Linked DNA regions of Homo sapiens. The protein of the gene in region 1 purifies or fractionates together with the protein of each later gene. This does not show direct contact. Each region holds a gene or a part of one and is shown in the gene's direction. Other genes may lie near its edges. The genes, in order: XPR1, COPB2, PJA2, EMC2, KIF5C, METAP1D and TRPM4.

Region 1 (3,500 bases):
TTGCTAATAAATGAGGACTTGTTGATGGAATAGGTTGACAATGGTATAAGCAGTAATAGAATAATAAAATGTACTATCAGATACACTGAAATATAGAAGGAATAATTTCCTTCTATATTTGTGGTTTGTTGTTTTTGTAGTAACTGTTATAAACAGAACAGTGTTATCATTTGTAGATAATTTTAGTATTAATTGACCTGCTGACTTATTTTAATTTAAATCTCACTGGGAAAACTTACCCTTAGACTGATTCCTAGTGAATTAACAAGAATGTGTTCACTCTAGTTATGTTTTTCTGATACCGCTTTTTAAAAGCTTCATCCTAAAGTAAAAGTACATTTCTTTCTTTTTTTCTTTAATTTTTTTTTTTTTTGAGACAGGGTCTGGCTCTATTGCCCAGGCTGAAGTGCAGTGGCGTGATCTCAGCTCACTGCAACCTCCACCTCCCAGGTTCAAGTGATCCTCCCACCTCAACCTCTCCAGTAGTTAGGACCACAGGTGTGTGCCAACGTGCCTGGCCAATTTTTTGTATTTTTGGTAGAGATGGGGTTTTGCCATGTTGCCCAGCTGGTCTCGAATTCCTGGGCTCAAGTCATCTGCCTGCCTTGCCTCCCAAAGTGCTGGGATTACAAGTGTGAGCCACCACACCCATCCTTTTCTTTAATTTTTAGTGAGAAAAGCACATAGGTCATAATGGTAGGCACTGGGTGCCATTTATATCCATATTTATATTGGAATCTATGGAATTGATATATGCTATGCTCCTAAAAACAAAGCTAAAAAAATTTATAAGAAATTGATTTATTTTGATATGAATATTGTATGTCAAATTAGTATAGATTATTTACATCCATTAGGTTATACTTTCTCTCCTTAAATCTATATTTACCTCAATCAGAAATCTAATTAGGTAGCATAAACAGTGCCTCAGATTTTCTAAACAAAAATATAAATTTTAACTCACTATATTAAAAGTAAGCTAATTAAAAATTTTAAATTATAGTCCTTTGTTACATAATTTAGACATCAGTTTTTACCAACAGTCTCTTTAGTTCTATAGTAAAAATTTTACACATTTCTATTATAAGAATAGAGAGGTGTTGTCATTTAGTAACTACTTTATGTATTTTAATTTTAAAAATAACCCACAAGTTGGAGCTGCTATTAATCCCTATTTTATAAATGAAGAAACCTACATTCAGAGAAGTTAATTAACTTGCCTAAGGTCACATAGCCAGTGAAGTGATGAAGATGAGTTATGAACCCAGGCAGTCGTTTATAATCTGTACTCTTAAACACTAACATTTAACACTTAGCCCTATTAGTCACTTATGTTAGATGTTTAACTTTGATCTAGTGGATCAAACTAGTAGAATATAAAAATCAAATTTGAGGCCAGGCACAGTAGCTCATGCCTGTAATCCTAGCACTTTGAGAGGCGGAGGTGGGAGGATCGCTTAAGCCCAGGAGTTCGAGACCAGCCTGGGCAACGTGGCAAAACCCTTTCTCTACAAAAAATGAAAAATTAGTGGGGCATGGTGGCACGCATCTGTAGCCCCAGTTACTTGGGAGGCTGAGGGAGGAGGATCGCTTGAGTCCAGCAGGTTGAGGTTGCAATGAGCTGAAATTGTACCACTGCACTCCATGAAAAGTAGAAATTAAAACTTCATCTTCTTAGCTATTTATCAGTATTAACTTAAAAGAGGATGTTAACATGTTCTTTGTAATAATTTAGTGGCTTTTTTGTGTAGGTGGTAAAATATCAGCTATCCAGAATTGTCTCTGGCTTTCATAATACTGTTACTCTAGGAATTGTCACTTTAATCAAAATCACAGGGTAGAAGTGGAGAAGTTGAAAGGCCTTATCCAGATTAAGAAGAGAAGGAGGAGTGAGTTACAGAATTCTCTCCCAGAAGGCGATATCAGATAAATCTAGAATGAATTTGACTGTGTGTAAATGTCAGTGAGTTGAGTATGATGTTTATGCTCTCCCTCTCACCCGGCCTCTGACAGAGTGACTTCTTCTTTTCTCTGTATTTCCAGGGTATTTTGTGTGTATCTCTATAATATGGTGCTATAATTATACCTTTATGTATTTATTTGCCCAACTAGACTGTGGATCATTAAGGCCTGTAAGCCGCAGTGCCTGACATTTAATAAATACTTGATAAGTCTTTGTTAAATACATGAATGACTGTAATTATATTCTTCCCTTCATTGGTTGTATTATATAACATTTACTACTCCCTTCTTTCTTCCTTTTTTCATTTTCTCTTTTTGTAAATTTTCCCTTCTTCCCAGTTTTTTTTTTAAATTTTCATGTCAGTCCTATCCTTTTTCAGTCCCATCCCACCATCCCTTTTTTCCTTATTTAATGCATTATCTCCCTCTTCTGCTCTTATGGAGATTTTCTGAATTAGCCAGGTTTTGAGGATGGGGTTGGCAGAGTATGAGAGTAATGATAGTCTGTCTCATGTCAGTTATAAAGAAATTTGTCCTAGGCTACCAGTTTCATAATAGTTCATGATTAGAGATGGATTTAGACTTCCTGATCTTTTGGTGTTATATCCTAAATTATTCTATATTTCTGTCACTTTGAATCCTTTAAGTCCATTCTGCACACTAGAGTTTCTTAAAATATTACAGAAACTGGTGCCAGAGCTTCTTCGTGCATAGATGACTACCATCCTACAGTCCCCCTCTTCCTCACAAAAAGTTTGCTTTATCGGGCGCTTATGGTTGCAAATGGTATAGATTGTCTCTCTGGTTTGTTGGACTCATGGAAAGATTATGAGAGTGGTTAAGAGACTGAGCCATGGAATGAAAGTATATCAGCACCAGAAAATAATGTCTCAAAGCCTGTATGATGTCCCACAGACACCTGGTCTAGCTTCCAAAGCTCCAAGAAAGTACCCGTCATAGGTAGTTGACATCCAGGATTGAGTCATAATGTGACCATTTATCTCCCTGACATAATAAAAATAAATATTTAGAGAAACAGAAGACAGATCCAGCCAAGTCTGAGAAGAGAGTTACAGATTCCCAAGTAGAATATGTCTATGAAATGAATATAACTAGATAATCAGAGCTAGAGATTAGATTCATTTTCTCAAAACTTCTACTTACTCAGAATTTCTTCTTTCAGGAGTCACATTTCCTACTGTATAAGATAGAAAGGGGTCCTTTAGGATGAGGATTAAGGCTTCCTTCATCCCATCTTCACTTCACACAGCGCTTATCAAGACAATCTGCACAATTTGAGCCTATTTCTGGTAATTGCATTGGTACCTACTTCCCTTCTCTGCAATGCCAAGATTTCCCTTTGTAGTGATAAACAGGCTTCCACAGAATATGTTAGGAAGAGTCTGTGTCGGTCTTCTGTAAAATGGGGATATGAATAGTTCCTAGCTCATGGAATTGTTATGAAGATGAGTTAATGCTTGCATAAAGCCTTGAGGAAAATACACTGCATGAGTTACTGCCCAATACATTTAATACAT
Region 2 (3,500 bases), on another chromosome or scaffold:
GCAGGTCTGGGCATCTTATAATGCTGTGCTGAGTATTGAAAAAGACAAAAGATATAAACCAAGTATGCCGCCTAGTTCAGTAAATGGTATCCATAATTATTTGTAATATAATTGTCTTATAAAGGTTAAGAATGCATTATGCATATTTCCCTTAATATCGTAAAACATTCTTGGCTGTAAGTTTTGCCTTTGGCAGTCTTTTGATACCAGCCTTTACAGTGTTATAAACAACTTTAAAGATAGTTGTCTTATGTCCATTGGGAAAATTTTCGTTGACTCTGCAGCATTCTGTTTTCTCATTATTTAAATGTTAAAATATCCTCTGTATTTTGCTGAATTTAAGTCTTTAAAACCTGGAGTGAGATATTTTTATTCATTTGAATGATCAGCTTTAAAATGAAGATAGTCTTTGTAATAATATAGTGCCTTCCTGTGGTATAAATGTCATGAGCAAAGTTCTAGGCATCTTGGTGCTCAACAAATACTGGTTGAATAATTGGAATCCTCCTCCTTTGCATTTCCAGCCATTCTCACCTTCCTGCCTCCAGTTGCCTTTATTTATGAGAAGACCATTCCAATAACATTTCAGCAGTAATGCCATATTCATAATTTCCTTTTCAATTTGTTGGCTAGAATTTTTTTTGTAACTTTGTATTCAAAGAAATGTATAACTTTTAAAAGATGTTAAATTGTAATAATGAACTAAATAACATTTGTTATTAGAATTCTTTTACCATAACATGAATTATTGTTCCTTAACTTCTACATGTCTTTGGTCCTCTGTACTTCCCTCCCTGGCTTCTGTGATTTCTAGGTTTGTGGTGGTGTGTGGTGATGGGGAGTATATCATCTACACAGCAATGGCATTGAGAAACAAGAGCTTTGGATCTGCTCAGGAGTTTGCATGGGCCCACGATTCTTCAGAGTAAGTTTTGATTGTATGATAGCCAGCATGCCCTGATTGCAGATGTGTTGTGTGCTGCTTGAAGACTCTCAAGGCTTGATGTGGGCTGTGATTCTCCGTGTTAAAAAACAGTTCTCACCAGAGCTGTCCATTGGAAGATGAGAGTCAGAGGCGAGTGTATAGCATGAGCCGTCTTAGTGCTTTCTTTGTTCTGCGTTAGGCTGGCTCACTCAAGCTGATACAATAATTCCATTTAACTGGGGACCCAGCACCCATTTCTTTGATGGAGCCCATGGCAGGACCTGGTGCTTTATGGGCTTAAGGCACAGTAGACCCTCATGTCTGCCTTGGCAGGCCTTGGCATGCCCTCCCTGTGATGTAGTGTCCTGAGGTGCTACTGCCCCTTTATGAGCTACTTGGGAGTGATGTTGTGGTTTGATCATTTTGATGAGAAATTTATTAAATCTTTTTTAAAACTTATTTTCTGTGATAGTACCCACTGCCCATTCTTAACAAATTTCTGTCTGAATTCAGAATGTTCATAAAATGTTCTCATTAAAAGCAGGAAAGATCATTTAACTCTGACTTTTTTACTAGTCATTGGCTCTGGTTCCTTTTTGATTCCTGTTTAATGCACGTAATAAACATTAGGGGTTTAGTGTTTTCAGACCACACAACTGAATTACATTTTCACAGTTTTTTTAGTTTTGTTTGCCCCACATTTTATGTTGCATCTTGCCCCCAACAGTGGGGTAACTTAAGCCTCAGCGTTGTGTAATAAGATACATTTTTTAAAATGTTACAACAGTAAGATTTATTGAGAGGTATGGAATTGTTCTGATATTTTCATAAATTTCCTAAATACACATATACATACAGTTCTATGTATTCAAAGGTAATGTGTTATCTTAAGCAAAATTATAGTTGATGAATTGCCTTCTCTCAGCACACCTCTTCCTCTATTTTGATAGTCCTTTTTTTCAGCTCTATCCAGCCAAGACCTTGCTCAGCATCTTTCCTGTCCTGAGCAAAGCCCTCATCACATCACTTCCTCAGACAATCTTAAATATCCAGTGATAGCCACAGCTCCTTTTTTCAAGGCAGAGGCCTGAATATAAGCAGTTGTTGCTGATGATGGCTGATTAATGAACCATTTGTCACAGTTTTTATTATTTAAATCGCCCTTATTGAGGTATAATTTACAGAAGACAGAATGTACCACTTAATTGTACAGCGATCCCCCGATCTGTGGTTTCCCTTCCTGCAGTTTTAGTTACCCACAGTCAACTGTGTTCCAAAAATATTAAGTGGAAAAGTCCAGAAATAAACAACTCATAAGTTTTAAATTGCCCAGTGTTCTGAGTTGCATGGTGAAATCTTGAGCCATCCTACCTGGGACGTGAATCATCGCTTTGTCTAGCATATCCACATTGTATATGCTGCCCACCTCTTACATTATAGGAAAAAACATAGTGTATATAGGGTTCAGTACTATCTGAGGTTTCAGGCATCCATTGGGGCTTAGAACGTATCCCCCATGGATAAGGGAGGACTACTGTTCATGTCAGTAGATTTGGGCAAATGTATGTAATCCGTAACTACTAACACAATCAAATTATAGAACATTTCTATCATCCCCGCAAAATCCCCTTGTCTCCATTAACAGTCTGTCCATACCCCCCATCCACCCATTCCCCAGTCCCAGGCAAACACTGATGAGTGCCTTTTGTCACTATATAGATTAGAGTTGTCTTTGGAGTTTCATATAAATGGAATCATACAGTATGTACTCTTGAGTCCAGCATCTTTTGTTCAGTATAATGTTTTTGAGATTCATCCATATTCTTGCCTGGATCAGTAATTGGTTTCTTTATTTGCAGAGTAGCATTCCATTATATGAATATACGATAATTTGTTTAATCATTCACCTATTGTGGACATTTGGGTCATTTTCAGTTTCTAAAGTGGTTTGTAAGCCCTAGTAATTCATGTCATACACAGTATAAAACCCTTTCATCATTTGTCCAACTGTAAGGAGTTCTCTGATCTCTTAGGAAAACAGTACATCAGATAATCTTCAAATATTTATTTTATATTTTTGCATAATTACTGAAAAATATTTGAAGATATTTCCAACATTTGGTAGAACTATGATTTAGTATATAACATGTTATGTTTGCCTTCCCTTTTTTCTCCCAGGTATGCAATAAGAGAGAGCAACAGCATTGTAAAGATATTTAAGAACTTTAAGGAAAAAAAATCATTTAAACCAGATTTTGGAGCAGAAAGTGAGTGTGATCTACATATGATACATTTTTAAATTCTTTGTAATGGCTCAAAAATGCCTAAGCAAAACTCTTTTTATGTTCCCTTTAGGTATCTACGGCGGCTTCTTATTGGGAGTCAGATCTGTAAATGGCTTAGCCTTCTATGACTGGGACAATACAGAACTCATACGAAGAATTGAAATTCAGCCCAAACATGTGAGTTTCCCCTCCATTGTTGTTTTTGGAATATTTATTTTTGTGATGAGTTCTGGGTCCCTAAGGCCAAGAAGTGTCTTTTGTACCCTGCTCTCCCTCTTCGATTATCAAAA
Region 3 (2,753 bases), on another chromosome or scaffold:
ATCAGTTGACTCTCTCCAGAATAAATAATCATCTGTGTGGCATACGTTATTGGCTTTGTCTGTAATACTGCCACTAAGTGATTATAATTAAGCTGTCCTGTTTGCATCAAATGTAAAGACTGTGTTCACAACCGTAGTAAAATTTGGTTTCATTGGAAATGAAACAAATTCTAAAGTATGCTTTTTCACTAGTCCCTTTGATTTTGCTATATCATAACCTCTTGGTTCATATGCTGAGAAATTTTTCAGAAAGTCCATTTTTGTTTAAAATTAGAACTTTTCAGAATGCCAAATGAAGGCTAAAATTTTGGCCAGAACATTACAAAAGTTTTAAATCGTAGACGTAACTCCCCCTGAAATAAAGTTAGGTAGTAAAATCCTTAATGAAACCAGTGGATGTGCTTAACGTAAGGTTAGTAAAGCATACAAAGAATCTAGTGTGCTCAGGGCTTGGTACAATGAGCTGAATTAGATGGCCTTATGAAACTCTTTCTAACCTCTTACCCAACCTGTTTCTCCTTGGTTAAAATTATACTTGAAGGCCCAGAACACTCATGGCACATTTGTTTAATATTGCTTATAGTTAGTTTAAGGTAATTTTGCTTCTACAGTATTTTGGAAGGTCTGAAAACTTGCACAGGGTCATCTTTGTAATTATATAACCCCAAACTAAGATGCACAATGTCTCCTTCAGGTGATCACACACAGTGGACGAGTATGTGCAAACATGGACATAATAGTTCACTTACAAATGTGATTTGATGTTAACACTAGAGAATGATGACTGTAGAACATTTGAGCAAGTAAAATAGTAAAGCACATAGTGAGTGTATGTCCGTCTAACTGGTACATTGATAATTTAGTTTGGGCACATAAAAGGAATATTTATATGGCTTCCCAAATGCAGAGTTACATCTTATTCGTGTATTTCTCTGAGTATTTATATCCCGTCTCCTTTTTTCATTCTTAAAAATAAATGAATTTTCACTGTTGGCACATATGAGGCTTAAATATAAGGAACATAACACTTGCATTCTAATTTTTGCATATATTGTAAATGTGTCTGGTATTTACAGCAAAATACTGTGTATCCTTTTATGGGTAAAACAAAAGTGAACATTGCATGCATGTAATGTGATGAATTTGTAATTTAGGAGTTCTTTGGGGCTTCTGTGACTTGGGAAATGCTTACATTCAGGCCTTAATGTTGCATTAGCTAGCATGTTTTCCCTCTGATGTATATAGTCACTGTTGTATAAACTAATCTTTGCTTGTTTTCTACTCTGTGATCTTTCCATATCATATTTCATTAATGATCAGTTAGTGTCAAGGAGTCAAAACAGATTAAAATTAATTTCATGTGTATATGGTGGAAATTTGTGGCTAGTGTGATTTTTGTTTGTTTCCTTTTAAGTACTGTTGATCAGTTGTGACACTTACTGGTTAAACTTACGTTGCTAAAGATTTCTCTATAATAAGCCACACATTATATTTAGACTATATTAAGGGACCTTGGTTTTCTTCTAGATAGCAGCTGTCCCAAAGAAAATATTTCTTCTTTGTCTGTTAAGATTTAGCTATTATCTGCCAGTTGTTAAGAGGTTTTGGTTCCAAACTCAACCAGCAATGTTGAGAGCTGAACTTAAGATAGCTGTTGTACTTTTTGCTTTCCATCTGTTACTGTCCTTCATTCTTGGCTCCCTACTATCTATAAACAGCTGCTGTGAAGAAGAAAAGTTGAATAAGAGTTGGCTTAAATTTTAAAAAAGAAAAAGAAAATTGAGGTTTTAGGATTTTCATGGTAACAAGCTCTGGTATAAGCTAAGGCTGGCAAGTTCAGATACTAAAATATTATTTGATCATATCTTGGATCCTTTTGAAAAAGTTAAGACTATATGAAGGTAAATTAGAAATAAGTATGAATATTAATAAAATAGCATTTATCTTATTTCTCTATTTTATGTTGTGACTTAACCTAATTTTATTTTTTTAACATTTTCTTATTTCTTATAATATGAATGCTGATATTTAAAGGTAGATCTATGTGGTATTCTTTGTGTTTCTTAATTGTTTAACTCTTAAGATTATTTGTGATCTGGATTTATGTATTTGTTAGATACATACGAATTGTTAAAATGGAATGCAAGTTTTTCAAAAGCCCAGGTCTAAATGTAATGGTTGGTTTATTGTTCTATAACCCCAGCCCATCATTTTCTGTGTAAATCATAAACAATAAACAGAATATACTCGGTGGTCATTTCTAATATTTAATTGTGTAATTGTATCACTTCTATAATGTAACCCCTGAAGGATTTAGAGTTAATGACAGATAACACTACTGAGCATGTGATGTTAGAAGTCCTTGAACTATAATCTAAGAAAGCCCTAGAAAGAGCCAGACAGAAGTAGTTGATGGACTTCCTACTGCTGGAGGGTCTCTGAGTCCTTGCCCTCTCCTCCCTGACATCCTTAGCTATCCCGTAGGTTTCAGCAGAACCTGATTTCCACACTGACTCCGGACTGCAGAAACCCTTAATAAGGAAGGGAGCCCACCTCACATCAGTGGTTTTCTCCAAATCAGGCATGGAAATATTATTAAATCTAACTGTTTAGCAAGATTCCTTGTGGTTCTCAAACAGTTCAGAGAACTCAGTCATTTCAGAAGGGTCAATTGGGTGCTGATAAATTACGCAATTCAATTAGACAAAGACTAGCCAGGCATGGTGGTGTGCACCTATAATCCCAGCTATTCA
Region 4 (3,500 bases), on another chromosome or scaffold:
TGTGAACATTGGGAAGGGAGGCCATATTTTTAGGAAATGAAGATGACTTGATTTTCGGATGCTGTGATTTTGAGGTAATGAGCTATCAAAGGTGAAAACATGTTTTCTTCAAGATGGTTTTATTTTTACAAATAATTTTTTTAGATAAATGTATTTAAGGCATTTCTAAAAGTAGTATGTGGTTAATAGTGCTACAAATGTATTTATTACAGCAGCACTCAAGAGTGTGGCAGGGTCAGCTATGTAAGGTGTATAGCTTAAGGTGTTTATAGGTAAAATGTTGCTTGTTTTGTAAGTTATATTTTCATACACAGTGTTTCTTGTTTTGTGTTCAGCTATTATATTTTAATATGTGACTGTGTGTCAGACTGCCGTTCTTAGAAGTTATGCTTTAAAAAAAGTTCTCTTTCCTATGAGTGTTTTTTCACAATAAGAAACACCTTTTACAAATTAACTCATACTCAATTAAGTATACCTATACATGAATCTTTGAGTGTATGTATAAACTGAAACCAAAGTTGCATTTACAAAGGATTCTAATGAGTATTGCTTCCATTCTGTTCATTTTGTTTCATTCTCCCCCACTGCCCCCCCACCCCCAACAGATGCTGGAAGAAATCCACTGAACCGATTTTATACCCTATTAATGGATTGTAATACACAGTTTGAAAAATACGTCTTCTGGAGCTCTGTGTGCATTAAAATAAATTAACCCTTTCCTTTTTCAAATCAGGTTGCCTTTTCTTTTAGAATAGCTGTTCCCAACAGCCTGCAGCCAATCTGACTAGATACTTTTATGGGACCATGAATAATTTAAAATTTATTATCCTGTAATTATCAACCTTTTAAAAGAATATGCTGGTTTATGTAAATGAATCTGTAAGTGGTATTTCCGAATATATAAAAAAATGAAGTGGAAAAGATACAGGATTGGAGGAAGTAGTTTTGGACTAAAGAAATCATAATTAAGTAGCAGGCATATTTTTCCATCTTTCAGAGGCCACCTCACTGCAGTGACATCTCATGCAAGTTGTCATGGAAGGAATAAACAGAACAATCATAGCGACTCTCTTAACCTTTGACCTTTAGCTCATCTCACAGGATTGCACAGTAGTTAATAAAATGTACAAGCAAGCAGTGAGAAGCTTACTTACATAGTATGTAATAAAATGACCTTGGCTTTGAGGAGCGAGCTTTTTGCAGGAAGGTGAAAGGGTAAAATGAAAGTTTTAAGCCACCTTTGAGGAAAGAGTGAGGGAAGAGCCTTTATTTCTTGTGAGAGGCTGAAACAGTTACCAGATTTTTTTAAAAAATAAAAGTAACTAGAATTTTTGTAGGGCTTCACATTTTATAAAATGCTTTACACGAATTTTCTAGTGTTTGGTGTCCTAAACTCAAGGGCCAAGCAGATGAAAATACATGTAGTTGGGTGAAAGACAATAGTGGTGCCTGTGAAGAACTGGTAAGTGTATACCCTTATCTAAGGGTAATCAAAATCAACTTAAAAACAAAAATATCCAAACTATTGTACGAACCAAGCAACTTTATATATATTTTATGTAATCTTAACTGCTCATCCCTGAGCTAAAGGTAATATTATCTCTATTCATTGGTATTGGAAACTAAGTACAGATTCGGTAAGTTATGTAAGGTCATGTAAAAGATGGAGTTTAGATTCAAACCAAGTGTATCAAGTCCATGTTCTTTCCAGTATACTATACGTCCTCTATGACTGGTGATATGGTTTGGCTCTGTGTCCCCACCCAAATCTCATCTTGTAGCACCCATAATTCCCATGTGTTGAGGAGGAGACCCACTGTGAGATGATTGAATCATGGGGACAGGTCTTTCCCATGCTGTTCTCATTATAGTGAATGGGTCTCACAAGATCTCATGGTTTTAGAAACAGGAGTTTCTCTACACAAGCTCTCTTTCTTTGCCTGCTGCCATCCACGTAGGATATGACTTTTTCCTTCTTGTCTTCTGCCATCATTGTGAGGCCTCCCCAGCCACGTGGAACTGCAAGTCCAGTTAAACCTCTTTCTTTTGTAAATTGCCCAGTCTCGGGTACGTCTTTATCAGCAGTGGGAAAACGGACTAATACAACCAGTTTCTTTTCTTTGAACTGTTTACTCCTTTCCAGTTTATCTTCTGGGGCTTTTTGTTTTGGTTTCAAATTTATTTATTTTTAAAATTGACATATAAAATTTAAAATTCTAGTGGTTTCTTTTTTTTTGCACCAGAATGATTTTCCTGTCAGACAGCCATGATTGTGTTGCTTTTCTTTTGCTCAGCATTTTTAAGTTGTTCTTCTGTACCTTTAAAAACAAACTTTAAAGTTCTCTAGTATGAAATAAAAGTCTTCCAAGAAACTCACTCTTCTTACTTCTTATACACTCATTTCCTGATCCTAGTGTGTTTATTTAATTCCCAGCTACCAGTAGTTCTTTCTGTATAGGATAACTTACTTTGTTATATGCCTGTTGAACTCCTTTTTCAACCTTTAAGAGACAGGGGTCTTGCTCTGTTGCTCAGACTGGAGTGCAGTGGTGCAATCACAGGTCACTGCAGCATCAACCTCCAGGCTCAAGTGATCCTCTCACGTCAGTCTCCTGAGTAGCTGGGACCACAGGCGGGTGCCACCATGCTGCCTTTTTTTTTTTTTTTTGAGACAAAGTCTTGCTTTGTCACTCAAGCTGGAGTGCAGTGGCACGATCTCGGCTCACGCAATCTCTGCCTCCTGGGTTCAAGCGATTCTCCTGCCTCAGCCTCCTGAGTAGCTGGGATTACAGGTGTGTGCCACCATAGTTGGCTAATTTTTGTATATTTAGTAGAGACAAGGTTTCGCCACGTTGGCCAGGCTGGTCTTGAACTCCTGGATCAAGTGATTGTCCTACCTTGGGCTCCCAAAGTCCTGGCATTACTGATGTAAGCCACCGTGCCTGGCCCATTCATCACTTCTAAAGATAGTCATAATACCAGTTGTAATGCTGTTTCAGTCTTCTAAAGGATCTGTTGCCCTTGTTCAATTAATTTTCTACTTTATCAAATTTGAGATACCACAGACTTCTACATGATTGTGAGTTTATTTTCCTTACCTAAAAAGCTGATTTTGTCTTGTCAGGTTTTTGACATCTATCGGATGTGTATGTGTGTGTCTGGGTACATATACACTTAAATGTCATGTTATTTTTTTCAGAAATGAGAGATAAAATGAGAAAATGGAGAGAAGAAAACTCAAGAAATAGTGAGCAAATTGTGGAAGTTGGAGAAGAATTAATTAATGAATATGCTTCTAAGCTGGGAGATGATAGTAAGTTCTTTTATTACATTCAGGCTCAGTACATGCCTCATTCATGGGCCTTTTTTTTTTTTTAACTGTTCTTTCATTCATGATTTTTCTACTTGTCATATTAATTTTCTTTGTGACTTTTTGTCCCAAGAATTTTAATGATAGTTTATTTTGAGAAGGATTTATAATTGCTTGGTAGTAGTAAGCT
Region 5 (3,500 bases), on another chromosome or scaffold:
CCCTTCCAGTCCCTAAATCCCCCTGCTTCAGGGTAACCATGATTCTCACTTCTGATGCTATTAGTTTTGCTTGTTTCTTTTTAACTTTATATTACATAAAACCATAGAGTATGTTCTCTTTTGTGTGTGGTTTCTTGGGATTAAGTGTTATGCTTGTCAAATTCATCCTCATTGTTTTGTAGTATTCCATGATATGAATATACTACAATTTGTCTACTGACTGTTGATGGATATTTGGATAGTTTCCGGTTTGGGGCTAATATGGCTAGTGCTGCTATGAACATTCGTTTATGTATATTTTGGTGAGTGCATGTACAGAATAGAAGACTGCCAGATACTGAAGGGTTTGGGAGTTGGGTTGGCATGTGCCAGGATCCTTCCCATTCCTAATTGATAATGTGGCACTAAAGGAAATGAGGGTTCTGGCAGTCTGTATCATGCCATATGCAATGAGTAGAATGGTCCCAAGTCAATTCAGTTGGAGCCGGCTGACATGGCTCAGTTGCAAGTGAAAACTGTCTGAGATGTACACAACCTTCCTTAGTTCTAGGGGCACAGACTGTGGATGACCAAAGAAGCCCAGATCATCCAGAAATATGTCACCTTCAAACAGAGACAAGTAAAGAATGAATTTTGGTGGAGTTATCTGTTAGTCCAAATTCAGAATCCCAGAAATTCTTTGTGTTTTTGAAACTGGGGTCATTTTTTCCCTTAAAGTTCTGTTTGTTATGGAGATATATTCCAAGAAAGAGATTTTACAGGTGGAGTTTCTAGATTTCTCTTTTATGAAAATGTCCTGTTTGGGAGAAATGTTCTCCATCACTCCTGCAGTTTTTCAGCTTTGTGCAAAGCTGTCTTTCTCTGACCACACCAGCCACAGTCTTTCCCCACTTTGAACTCCTATAGCATTTGTTTTGTATATGATCTCCCAAGTTTTTTGCCTTGGATTATTATTAGCTTTGGTCATATGCCTAATGACATTGTAAGCCATGTTTAGAGACAAGAACTGTGCATGTTTTGCTCCTTTATACTTCCCAGGGCTTTGTCTGTAGAAGGCACTTAGTAAATATTTATCGATCTCTCTGTGAATTCTGGAAACTTTACTTTGGTATATTTAACATAGTTTACAGAGTTTTTATTGGCCGTAGGCTGTGGGGAGTAGTTAAAAAATAATTTTAAAGATAAGTGCTGTTTCTCTGAGTGGGCCTGGTAAGATAGCATATATAATACTTAAAATGATATAAGAAAATTGGGAAAGAACTGCATTCAGCTTTGGCAAAAATTAGAAGAGCTAAAGATGCTGATGGTGAACTAGAAGTAGAGGGTGGGGGTGGGTAAGTGATTAGAAAAGAGGCTCCCTCCCATAACACATTAATTTTTCAGCAAAAATATTGGATTTACAGCATTTCTCAGAGTACTCCATTAGCTGCTAAAAGTCCTGGTGAGTCATCCATTACTTTGGGTTCTGCCTATTGGTTTTGAAGCAACTGTATTAATGGAAGCTCTCTGACATGGTGAGTTCTCAGTAAAGTTCTTTGAAATGGATTTTCACACTTCACTTTCCTCTTATTGGGCTTTTCTCTTGTTTGCAGTCCTGAGAAAGCAGGTCTTGTTAAAGATGAGTGCTTCCTCCTGAGGGCCTAAGAGCCAGAGCAAAACATCAGCCACAAACCCTAAGCTGGAAAGTGGCCCCAGTCTTCAGAAGCTTAGATTATTTCTTGGCAGTAGATGGATGGGGAAGGGGCCTGGAGACCAAATCCGCGCCTGAGTTAGGATTTTAGAGATTAAGTGAAGAAATACAGCTACACCTTAAAACTTTTCTTCTTTCCACAGTAATGGTCTTCCAAAGCAATAACATTAAAACAATTTTTTCAAATTTACACGCAGTAATACCACTTTTTTTTTTTTCTTTGAGACTGAGTCTTGCTCTGTCACCCAGGCTGGAGTGCAGTGGTGTGACCCTGGCTTATCGCAACCTCTGCCTCCTGGGTTCAAGCAATTCTCCTGCCTCAGCCTCCCAGGTAGCTGGGACTACAGGCGTGTGCCACCACATTCAGCTAATTTTTGTATTTTTAGTAGAGATGGGGTTTCACCATGTTGGCCAGGCTGGTCTTGAACTCCTGACTTCAGGTGATCCACCTGCCTTGGCCTCCCAAAGTGCTGGGATTATAGGCATGAGCCACCATGCTCGGCTTGTTTCCAGTTTGGTATGATTATGAATAAAGCTGCTATAAACCTTTGCATATAGGTTCTGTGTGAGTATACATTTTTATTTCTCTTGGGTAAATATCCAGGAATGGGATTGCTGGGTTGTAAAGTAACCATACGGTTAACTCTGTAAGAAACTGCCAAACTGTTTTCTAAAGTGGTTGTACCAATTTGCATTTCCATCTAAAAGCAGTAACATTTTAAACCAAAGTAAGTTTATTTAGTCACTTTGTCTAAGTGCATTCTAGTCTAGTAGTGTCAGGATGTATCAGTTCTTCATTCCTCTGTGCCCTAAATTCAGAGATGTTTATATCACCTGAAATGGGTTAGTGGTTTCCTTCACATGTACCCTGTGAAATCATGGACTGAGGGAACATCATAGAGAGCTGTAATCTGGCGTGTGTCACTGAGGCCACTCACTATTCACAGTAGGCACACAGTCAGTGAATGGGGTGGGTAGAGGTAGCAGGAAGGGTGAGACAAAACCGAGTGTAGATTCACTAGCTAAAAAAAAACCTAGTTTTTTTTTTTTTTTTTCAAGTTGCTGAGCTTTCCTGGGCATGAGTTTTCTTGTATTGAAAGTGCAGATAATAATTACTTACCTCACAGGGTCATTTGGATGAAATGAAATGAAGTGGTGAGAGAGTGTCTGGCACAGAGAAAATGCTCAATAGGCGCTGATTACCTCCTATGTCTCCTGTTCCCTTGGTGACCTTCCTCATGTCAACATTAGCTTTGGCCCCACAAATTAGTGCCCCTTCTGGCTATCCCCTGAAAACCCTTCTTGCATTACCATTTCTTAGGCATTTGTTCACCCCATTCTCCTGGTTGGAATACCCACTGTTTTCATCTATTTCTGGTATTTCTAACTATCCTTGAAGGCAAAACTCATATTTCATTTAGCTCTAGACTACGTTAGCTGTTCCTTTGTGATCATGCATGTTTGTGTGTGCGTGTGCGTGTGTATATCTTCCCATGTAGCTTTTTCTTTTTCTTTTTTTAATTAAATTTTTGTCTCCTTTACTGTAGTTGTGTAATTGCTTAGTAAATGTATCTTGACTGAAGGTTTTTTTTCCCCCTTTCCCTGCCTGAAATCACGACTCCATAAATGCCAATTTCTGCATTTCTGTAAATAACTTGGGTATCACTGGAGACTTCCCTCTGCCTCACCTGTGCTTGTCTGGCCCGACTCCCCTATTTAATGATGTTTTCCATTCTCAGCTCTTCTTCCCATTCACAGTTGGAAACCTCCCCCTACCTTTGATTTCCCTTTAGTCCTTACCTCTAAATCA
Region 6 (3,500 bases), on another chromosome or scaffold:
GATTACAGGTGTGAGCCACTGCGCCTGGCCAATATTTATAGTTTCTATGAAATACCCGCTTTCCTCAAGCATTAGAAATCCATAAAAATCAGTGTGGATGCTATATATCTTAGGGAACTTGGCAAAGATGGGAGAAGTACTATGTGTATGCAGAACTTCATTTGAACAACATCTAGTTTTAAGCTGAAACAGCTTGTTTTTACGGAGACTGAATTTTCTTTTTTAGCTTTTGAACATGGAGACAGTTAAACATAATGCAAAAGTAGAGAGAATAGTACAATGAACTCCCACGTAGCCATCATCTAGTTACAATAGTCATCAACCTATGGCCACTATTGTTACATCTATACTCCCAGTTACTTTGCCTCCCCACAGGTGGATTATTTTGAAGCACATTCCAGATATATTATTTCATCTGTAGATTTTTTACCGTGTATCTCTAAAAGATAGGGAGCCATTTTTTTCTTCTTACGTTGTACATATCAGTTCTAGAATTTGCATTATAATTTCCATTTCTTGTTGAGATTTCCCACCTGTTCACTCATTATGTTCATCTTTTCCTTTAAGTACTTGAACATACATATTTATAACAGCTTTTTAAAAATCTGTTAATTTTATTATTGGGTCTCCTCAGAGTCTGTTTCTGTTTTGTTGACTGCTGTTTTTTTTTTTATTGTACATTACGTTTTCCTGCTGCTTCCCATGTCATGTAATTTTTTTTTTTTTTTTTTTTTAAGAGAAGGGCCTTGTTCTGTCACCCAGGCTGGAGTGCAGTGGTACAATCATAGCTCACTGCAACCTCAAACTCCTGGGCTCAAGCAATCCTCCTGCCTCAGCCTTCCAAGTAGCTGGGACTATAGGCGCACACCACCATGTCTGGCTAATCATGTAATATTTAATTTTATAAGTGGCATGACAGATAATATCTTGGTGGAGATTATGTTGTTTTTCTTTAACATATGTTTTAAACAACTGCCAGGCAATATGTTAAATCTGTTTGATTCTTTCAGGCTTGGTTTTTATTCTCTGTTAGGATGGATCTATTTGTGTTTTGCTGTTAGTTCTAGGGGGTGGCTGAGGCCAGTGTGGGCTCATGTGTTGTATTGTTTTCTTTTAAGGTTCATGGTCCTGCATTGCCTAATATCCAGTGCCAAGATATAGTTGCTTCACATATTTTGTCTAATTGGTTAAGACAGGTGGGAATTCTAGTACCAGTTATGCTGGAATGGATGGAAAAGGATATTAATTTTGTTTTTTTTGAGACAGAGTCTCTGTTGCCCAGGATGGAGTGCAGTGGCGCATTCTCAGCTCACTGCAACCTTCTTCTCCTGGGTTCAAGCAGTTCTCCTGCCTCAGCCTCCTGTGTAGCTGAGATTACAGGCGCATGCCACGACACCCGGCTAATTTTTGTATTTTTAGTAGAGACGGGGTTTCACCATGTTGGCCAGGCTGGTCTCCAACTCCTGATCTCAAGTGATCCACCTCAGCCTCCCAAAGTGCTGGGATTACAGGCATGAGCCACCGCGCCTAGCCGGATATTATTATTTTTTTTAATCTATAAGTTTACTTTCCCTTTTTTTTTTTTTTTGAAAATTATTTGTTGAAGCAACTGGTTAGCCTATTGGTTCTGTGGAGCTTTGCATTTTGTGGATTTTGCTGATGGTATTATATTCCACAGGGCTTGTTGAAGATGTTCCTCTATAAAATGGTAGTTAGATCCAAGGCCTGATTTAAGTTAGACATTTTTTGGTACAAGTACTTCATAGTGGTGTTGCTGGAGACATTGTGGCCTGGAGACATTGGAGACATTAGTGGCCATTGGCAATCATGACCTGGCTCATTAGGAGTTTACAAATGACAATATTTTAATTACTCCTTCTTTATTTATCAGCTAGAAAACATCTACAAAGAGAAACTTTCTCATCAAGTATTTCATTACCCTGACAGGCCCTGTCCCAGCAAGGAAAGTTAAATGGTTTGTTCTCCTTATTTATCAGTTTTTAAAATACCATAGTCCCCCGCTTATCCAATGGGGGTATGTTCCCAGACCCTCAGTGGATGTCTGAAGCCACAGATGGTACTGAACCCTGCACGGTGCTGTACTATGCTTTTTCCTATACACACATTTCTGTGGTAAGGTTTAATTTATAAATTAGGCAGAGTATGAAATTAACAACAATCACTAAAAATAGAACAATTTTAACAATATACTGTAATAAAAGTTAGGTGAATGTGGCCTTTCTCTCAAAATATCTTTTTCACTGTGCTCACCCCTTTTTTTTTATGATGATGTGAGATGATAAAATGCTTACGTGATGAAGTGAGGTGAATGAGAAAGCATTGTGATGTAGTTTTAGACTACATGTCTGAAGGAGAATCATCTGCTTCAGGTGATCCTGGATCACTAAGCCATGACATGATGTCAGAAGCAGAGAATGTGGATGACTAATGGGTTGCTAGTGTGCAGGGTGTGGACCTGCTGACAAAAGGGAGGATTCATGTCCTGAGCAGAATGGAGTGGGCCAGTGTGAGATTTCATCACGCTGTGCAGAACGGTGTGTTTGTGAATTGTTTATTTCTGGAATTTTCTTTCTTTTTTTTTTTTTGAGACAGAGTCTCGCCGTGTCTCTCAGGCTGGAGTGCAGTGGCGCGATCTCTGCTCACTGCAAACTCCACCTCCCGGGTTCCCGCCATTCTCCTGCCTCAGCCTCCCGAGTAGCTGGGACTAGGGGCGCCCACCACCGCGCCAGGCTAATTTTTTTTGTATTTTTTAGTAGCGACGGGGTTTCACCGTGTTAGCCAGGATGGTCTCGATTTCCTGACCTCGTGGTCCGCCCACTTCGGCCTCCCAAAGTGCTGGGATTACAGGCGTGAGCCACCGCGCCCGGCCTGGAATTTTCTATTTAATATTTTTAGACCTTGATTGACCTTGGATAACTGAAACTCTTATCTAAGAGGAGACTACCGTAACAGGTTTATCCTCCAAAAGTGACCAATGAATTTTTGTTTCGGGTCATTATATGGGTTAATTTTTTTTATATGGGTTTATTTTTAATTGTGTATCTACTTCTTTAATTTTCTGAAAGTATATGAAACGTCATGGAGCATTGAAATTGTGAGGCAGGATTGCAAGATTCAAGATAGAAGAGCTATTGACAGAAGTAGCATTTCTAATATATGGAATTTAAGAAACTCTTACTATACCTTAATGTTAGAGTGGAAGACTGTAGGGTAAGAGAGGATTAACAAGAAAGTGAGATGGTGTCTCCATTTTAATCTGCTGCTTGTGTGTTCTGAATGTATTGGAGAGGGAAAGCCATTGCAGTCAGTTAGAAGATAATGGCAGAAACAGAAGGACCTGAACTAGGGTAATGACTGCGGGATGGAAAGGGAGAGATGGATGCCAAGGAAATGGTACAGAGGAGAAATCATCATGACCTGGTGGTTTGCTGGAAAGGAGACCCGAGGAAGGGAAGGGGCATCAAAGCAGAAAAGGAGGA
Region 7 (3,500 bases), on another chromosome or scaffold:
GTTTTCTCCTATCTCCAGCAAAGGCTGATGGGAGGTAATCAAGCCCCCTTCTCTTCTTGCCTCAGGGACTGGAATTGACATCCCTGTCCTGCTCCTCCTGATTGATGGTGATGAGAAGATGTTGACGGTATAGGGGCCCGGATGCCCGGATCTAAGGGGGAAGGAGGGTTGGGGGCCAGGACTCCTGGGTCCTGAGTCTTAGGGAGGGTCTGGGGGTCTGACTCCGGGTAGGGTGAATATCCTGCCTTTTCTGACGTGATGAATAAAGAATGCCTTTATCCTGTAGCGAATAGAGAACGCCACCCAGGCTCAGCTCCCATGTCTCCTCGTGGCTGGCTCAGGGGGAGCTGCGGACTGCCTGGCGGAGACCCTGGAAGACACTCTGGCCCCAGGGAGTGGGGGAGCCAGGCAAGGCGAAGCCCGAGATCGAATCAGGCGTTTCTTTCCCAAAGGGGACCTTGAGGTCCTGCAGGCCCAGGTATGACACTGGGGGCCCAACTCTGGATCCTGAGATGGGAGGGAACTGGGGACTTGGGCTCCTGGGTCTGAGGGAGGAGGGGCTGGGGGCCTGGACTTCCAGGTTCCGGGAGAAGAGGGTGCTGGGCATATAGACTATTAGGTCCTGGAGGGGAATGGCCTCCTCCATCCCTTTGGACAGGGCCCAACAGGAGTTGGGGATGGAGGCGGGCTAGGGATGCAGAACTGGCTATTCCACAGGTGGAGAGGATTATGACCCGGAAGGAGCTCCTGACAGTCTATTCTTCTGAGGATGGGTCTGAGGAATTCGAGACCATAGTTTTGAAGGCCCTTGTGAAGGGTAAAAGTTGTACCCTCCAGTCTTCCCCCTCTCTCAGTTCAACCTTAGACACCTTTCCTGGCCTGGGCACTTCATCCACCCTCTCTAATCCAAGGCCCATGCCCCCTTTACCCCTCTTAATATTTTTCCCCTTTGGGGCTTTGCATGGTGCTATTTGGGCAGTTTTCCCAGATGCTTTCATTATGTTCCAGCATCTGCTTTCCTCTGTTGGATCCATCCATCCATTCTTTCATCTTTCCATCCATCCACATGTACAGATCGATCTTTCCATCTCTTTACCTACCATCCTTCCAGTCATCCCTCATTCTTTCATCCATCCATCCTTTCACCTGTCCATCCACACATCCACTGACAATTCCTGAGAATTCCATCCGCTCATTCCTCCATCCGTCTTCTCACCTGTCCATCCACACATCCACTGACAATTCCATTCAGTCATTCTTCCATCCATCCATCTTCTCACCTGTCCATCCATGCATCCACTGACAATTCCTGAGAATGCCATCTGCTCATTCTTCCATCCATCCATCTTCTCACCTGTCCATCTACACATCCACCGAAAATTCCTGAGAATTCCATCCACTCATTCCTCCATCCATCCATCTTCTCACCTGTCCATCCACACATCCACTGACAATTCCATTCACTCATTCTTCCATCCATCCATCTTCTCACCTGTCCATCCACACATCCACTGACAATTCCTGAGAATGCCATCCGCTCATTCCTCCATCCGTCTTCTCACCTGTCCATCCACACATCCACTGACAATTCCTGAGAATTCCATCCGCTCATTCCTCCATCCGTCTTCTCACCTGTCCATCCACACATCCACTGACAATTCCATCCACTTATTGTTCCATCCATCCATCTTCTCACCTGTCCATCCACACATCCACTGAAAATTCCATTCACTCATTCTTCCATCCATCCATCTTCTCACCTGTCCATCCACACATCCACTGACAATTCCATTCACTTATTCTTCCATCCATCCATCTTCTCACCTGTCCATCCATGCATCCACTGACAATTCCTGAGAATGCCATCTGCTCATTCTTCTATCCATCCATCTTCTCACCTGTCCATCTGCACATCCACTGAAAATTCCTGAGAATTCCATCTACTCATTCCTCCATCCATCCATCTTCTCACCTGTCCATCCACACATCCACTGACAATTCCTGAGAATTCCATCCGCTCATTCCTCCATCCATCCATCTTCTCACCTGTCCATCCACACATCCACTGACAATTCCATTCACTCATTCCTCCATCCACCCATCTTCCATCCATTTACCCATCTACCCATCCATCTTTTCATTCATCCATCCAACTGTTCTTCCATCTATCCATCCACCCACCCATTCTTCCTTCCCTACATGCTTCCAATATACATGAAGCACTCTGGCTAGACATGAACCAAAGCACTGTCTCCCAGTGAGGAAGTCCAGATATTTCACTAGAAATGGCAGCTTGGAGGACGGAATGATGAAAACCAAGGCGGGGGAGCATAATGCACACCTGGGAGAGGCTGGGGAGGGTCTTATTTATTTATTCACTTATTGAGACAGGGTCTTGCTCTGTAGGCCAAGCTGGAGTATAGTGGTGTGATCACGGCTCAGTGCAGCCTCAACCTCCCAGGCTCAAGTGATCCTCCCACCCCAGCCTTCCAAGTAGCTGGGAACATACCCGCCCACCACTACACCTGGTAAATTAAACAAAAAAAAAATTTTTTTTTTGTACAGACGAGGTCTTGCTCTGTTGCCCATGCTGGTCATGAACTCCTGGCCTCAACTGATCCTCCTGCCTCAGTCTCCCAAAGTGCTGGGATTACAGGCATGAGCCACCATGCCAGCCTCCTTTATTTAGTCAACAAATACAATCCTAGGCTCCAGAGACTAAAGCCAACCCATTTCCTGCTCTCAAAGACCCCAGATCCCACTAGGATTGTTTGGATACAACCTTAGGTAAAATTTAAGACAGAAGCACAGGCAAGAATCACTGTCGTTAGAAGGAAAACTTCAAGGAAAAGTTGTGTGTGTGTGTGTGTGTGTATTTTGAGACAGAGTCTTGCTCTGTCGCCCAGGCTGGAGTGCAGTGGTGCGAGCTTGGCTCACTGCAACCTCCGCCTCCCGGGTTCAAGCGATTCTCCTGCCTCACCCTCCTGAGTAGCCGGGATTACAGGCACGTGCCATCATGCCCGGCTGATTTTTGTATTTTTAGTAGAGACGGTGTTTCACCATGTTGGTCAGGCTGGCCTCGAACTCCTGACCTCATGATCCATCCACCTCGGCCTCCCAAAGTGCTGGGATTACAGGTGTGAGCCACTGCACCTGGCCAGAGAAGTTGGCATTTAAACCGGACCTTGGCCAGGCACAGTGGCTCACACGTGTAATTTCAGCACTTTGGGAGGCTGAGGAGGGAAGATCGCTTGAGCCCAGGAGTTTGAGACCAGCCTGGGCAGCATGGTGAAATGCCACCTCTATAAAAAATACAAATAATAAGTTGGGGAGGGTGGCGCATACCTGTAATCCCAGCTACTTGGGTGGCTGAGGCAGGGGAATCGCTCGAACCTAGGAGGCAGATTGTGCCACTGCACTCCAGCCTGGGTGATAGGGCAAGACTCTGTCTCAAAAAAAAAAAAAAAAAACCTAAATAAATAAACCAAATAAACTGGACC

What was found.
Region 2: the proteins of XPR1 (region 1) and COPB2 purify together in Homo sapiens (affinity purification with mass spectrometry; one large-scale study listed by BioGRID and IntAct). This does not show direct contact.
Region 3: the proteins of XPR1 (region 1) and PJA2 purify together in Homo sapiens (affinity purification with mass spectrometry; one large-scale study listed by BioGRID and IntAct). This does not show direct contact.
Region 4: the proteins of XPR1 (region 1) and EMC2 purify together in Homo sapiens (affinity purification with mass spectrometry; one large-scale study listed by BioGRID and IntAct). This does not show direct contact.
Region 5: the proteins of XPR1 (region 1) and KIF5C purify together in Homo sapiens (affinity purification with mass spectrometry; one large-scale study listed by BioGRID and IntAct). This does not show direct contact.
Region 6: the proteins of XPR1 (region 1) and METAP1D purify together in Homo sapiens (affinity purification with mass spectrometry; one large-scale study listed by BioGRID and IntAct). This does not show direct contact.
Region 7: the proteins of XPR1 (region 1) and TRPM4 purify together in Homo sapiens (affinity purification with mass spectrometry; one large-scale study listed by BioGRID and IntAct). This does not show direct contact.

Annotation. Positions count from the first base shown.
Region 1 is NC_000001.11:180,827,522-180,831,021, forward strand, and holds part of XPR1 (solute carrier family 53 member 1), read left to right. Parts: intron 1-3,500. UniProt on the Homo sapiens protein: Inorganic ion transporter that mediates phosphate ion export across plasma membrane.
Region 2 is NC_000003.12:139,369,148-139,372,647, reverse strand, and holds part of COPB2 (coatomer subunit beta'), read left to right. Parts: intron 1-814; coding exon 815-925; intron 926-3,103; coding exon 3,104-3,192; intron 3,193-3,280; coding exon 3,281-3,387; intron 3,388-3,500. UniProt on the Homo sapiens protein: The coatomer is a cytosolic protein complex that binds to dilysine motifs and reversibly associates with Golgi non-clathrin-coated vesicles, which further mediate biosynthetic protein transport from the ER, via the Golgi up to the trans Golgi network.
Region 3 is NC_000005.10:109,334,222-109,336,974, reverse strand, and holds the end of PJA2 (E3 ubiquitin-protein ligase Praja-2), read left to right. Parts: 3' UTR 1-2,253; downstream 2,254-2,753.
Region 4 is NC_000008.11:108,446,624-108,450,123, forward strand, and holds part of EMC2 (ER membrane protein complex subunit 2), read left to right. Parts: intron 1-3,199; coding exon 3,200-3,313; intron 3,314-3,500. UniProt on the Homo sapiens protein: Part of the endoplasmic reticulum membrane protein complex (EMC) that enables the energy-independent insertion into endoplasmic reticulum membranes of newly synthesized membrane proteins.
Region 5 is NC_000002.12:148,878,227-148,881,726, forward strand, and holds part of KIF5C (kinesin heavy chain), read left to right. Parts: intron 1-3,500. UniProt on the Homo sapiens protein: Microtubule-associated force-producing protein that may play a role in organelle transport. Has ATPase activity. Involved in synaptic transmission. Mediates dendritic trafficking of mRNAs.
Region 6 is NC_000002.12:172,006,453-172,009,952, forward strand, and holds part of METAP1D (methionine aminopeptidase 1D, mitochondrial isoform 1 precursor), read left to right. Parts: intron 1-3,500. UniProt on the Homo sapiens protein: Removes the N-terminal methionine from nascent proteins. The N-terminal methionine is often cleaved when the second residue in the primary sequence is small and uncharged (Met-Ala-, Cys, Gly, Pro, Ser, Thr, or Val).
Region 7 is NC_000019.10:49,171,292-49,174,791, forward strand, and holds part of TRPM4 (transient receptor potential cation channel subfamily M member 4), read left to right. Parts: intron 1-65; coding exon 66-127; intron 128-286; coding exon 287-478; intron 479-717; coding exon 718-817; intron 818-3,500. UniProt on the Homo sapiens protein: Calcium-activated selective cation channel that mediates membrane depolarization. While it is activated by increase in intracellular Ca(2+), it is impermeable to it.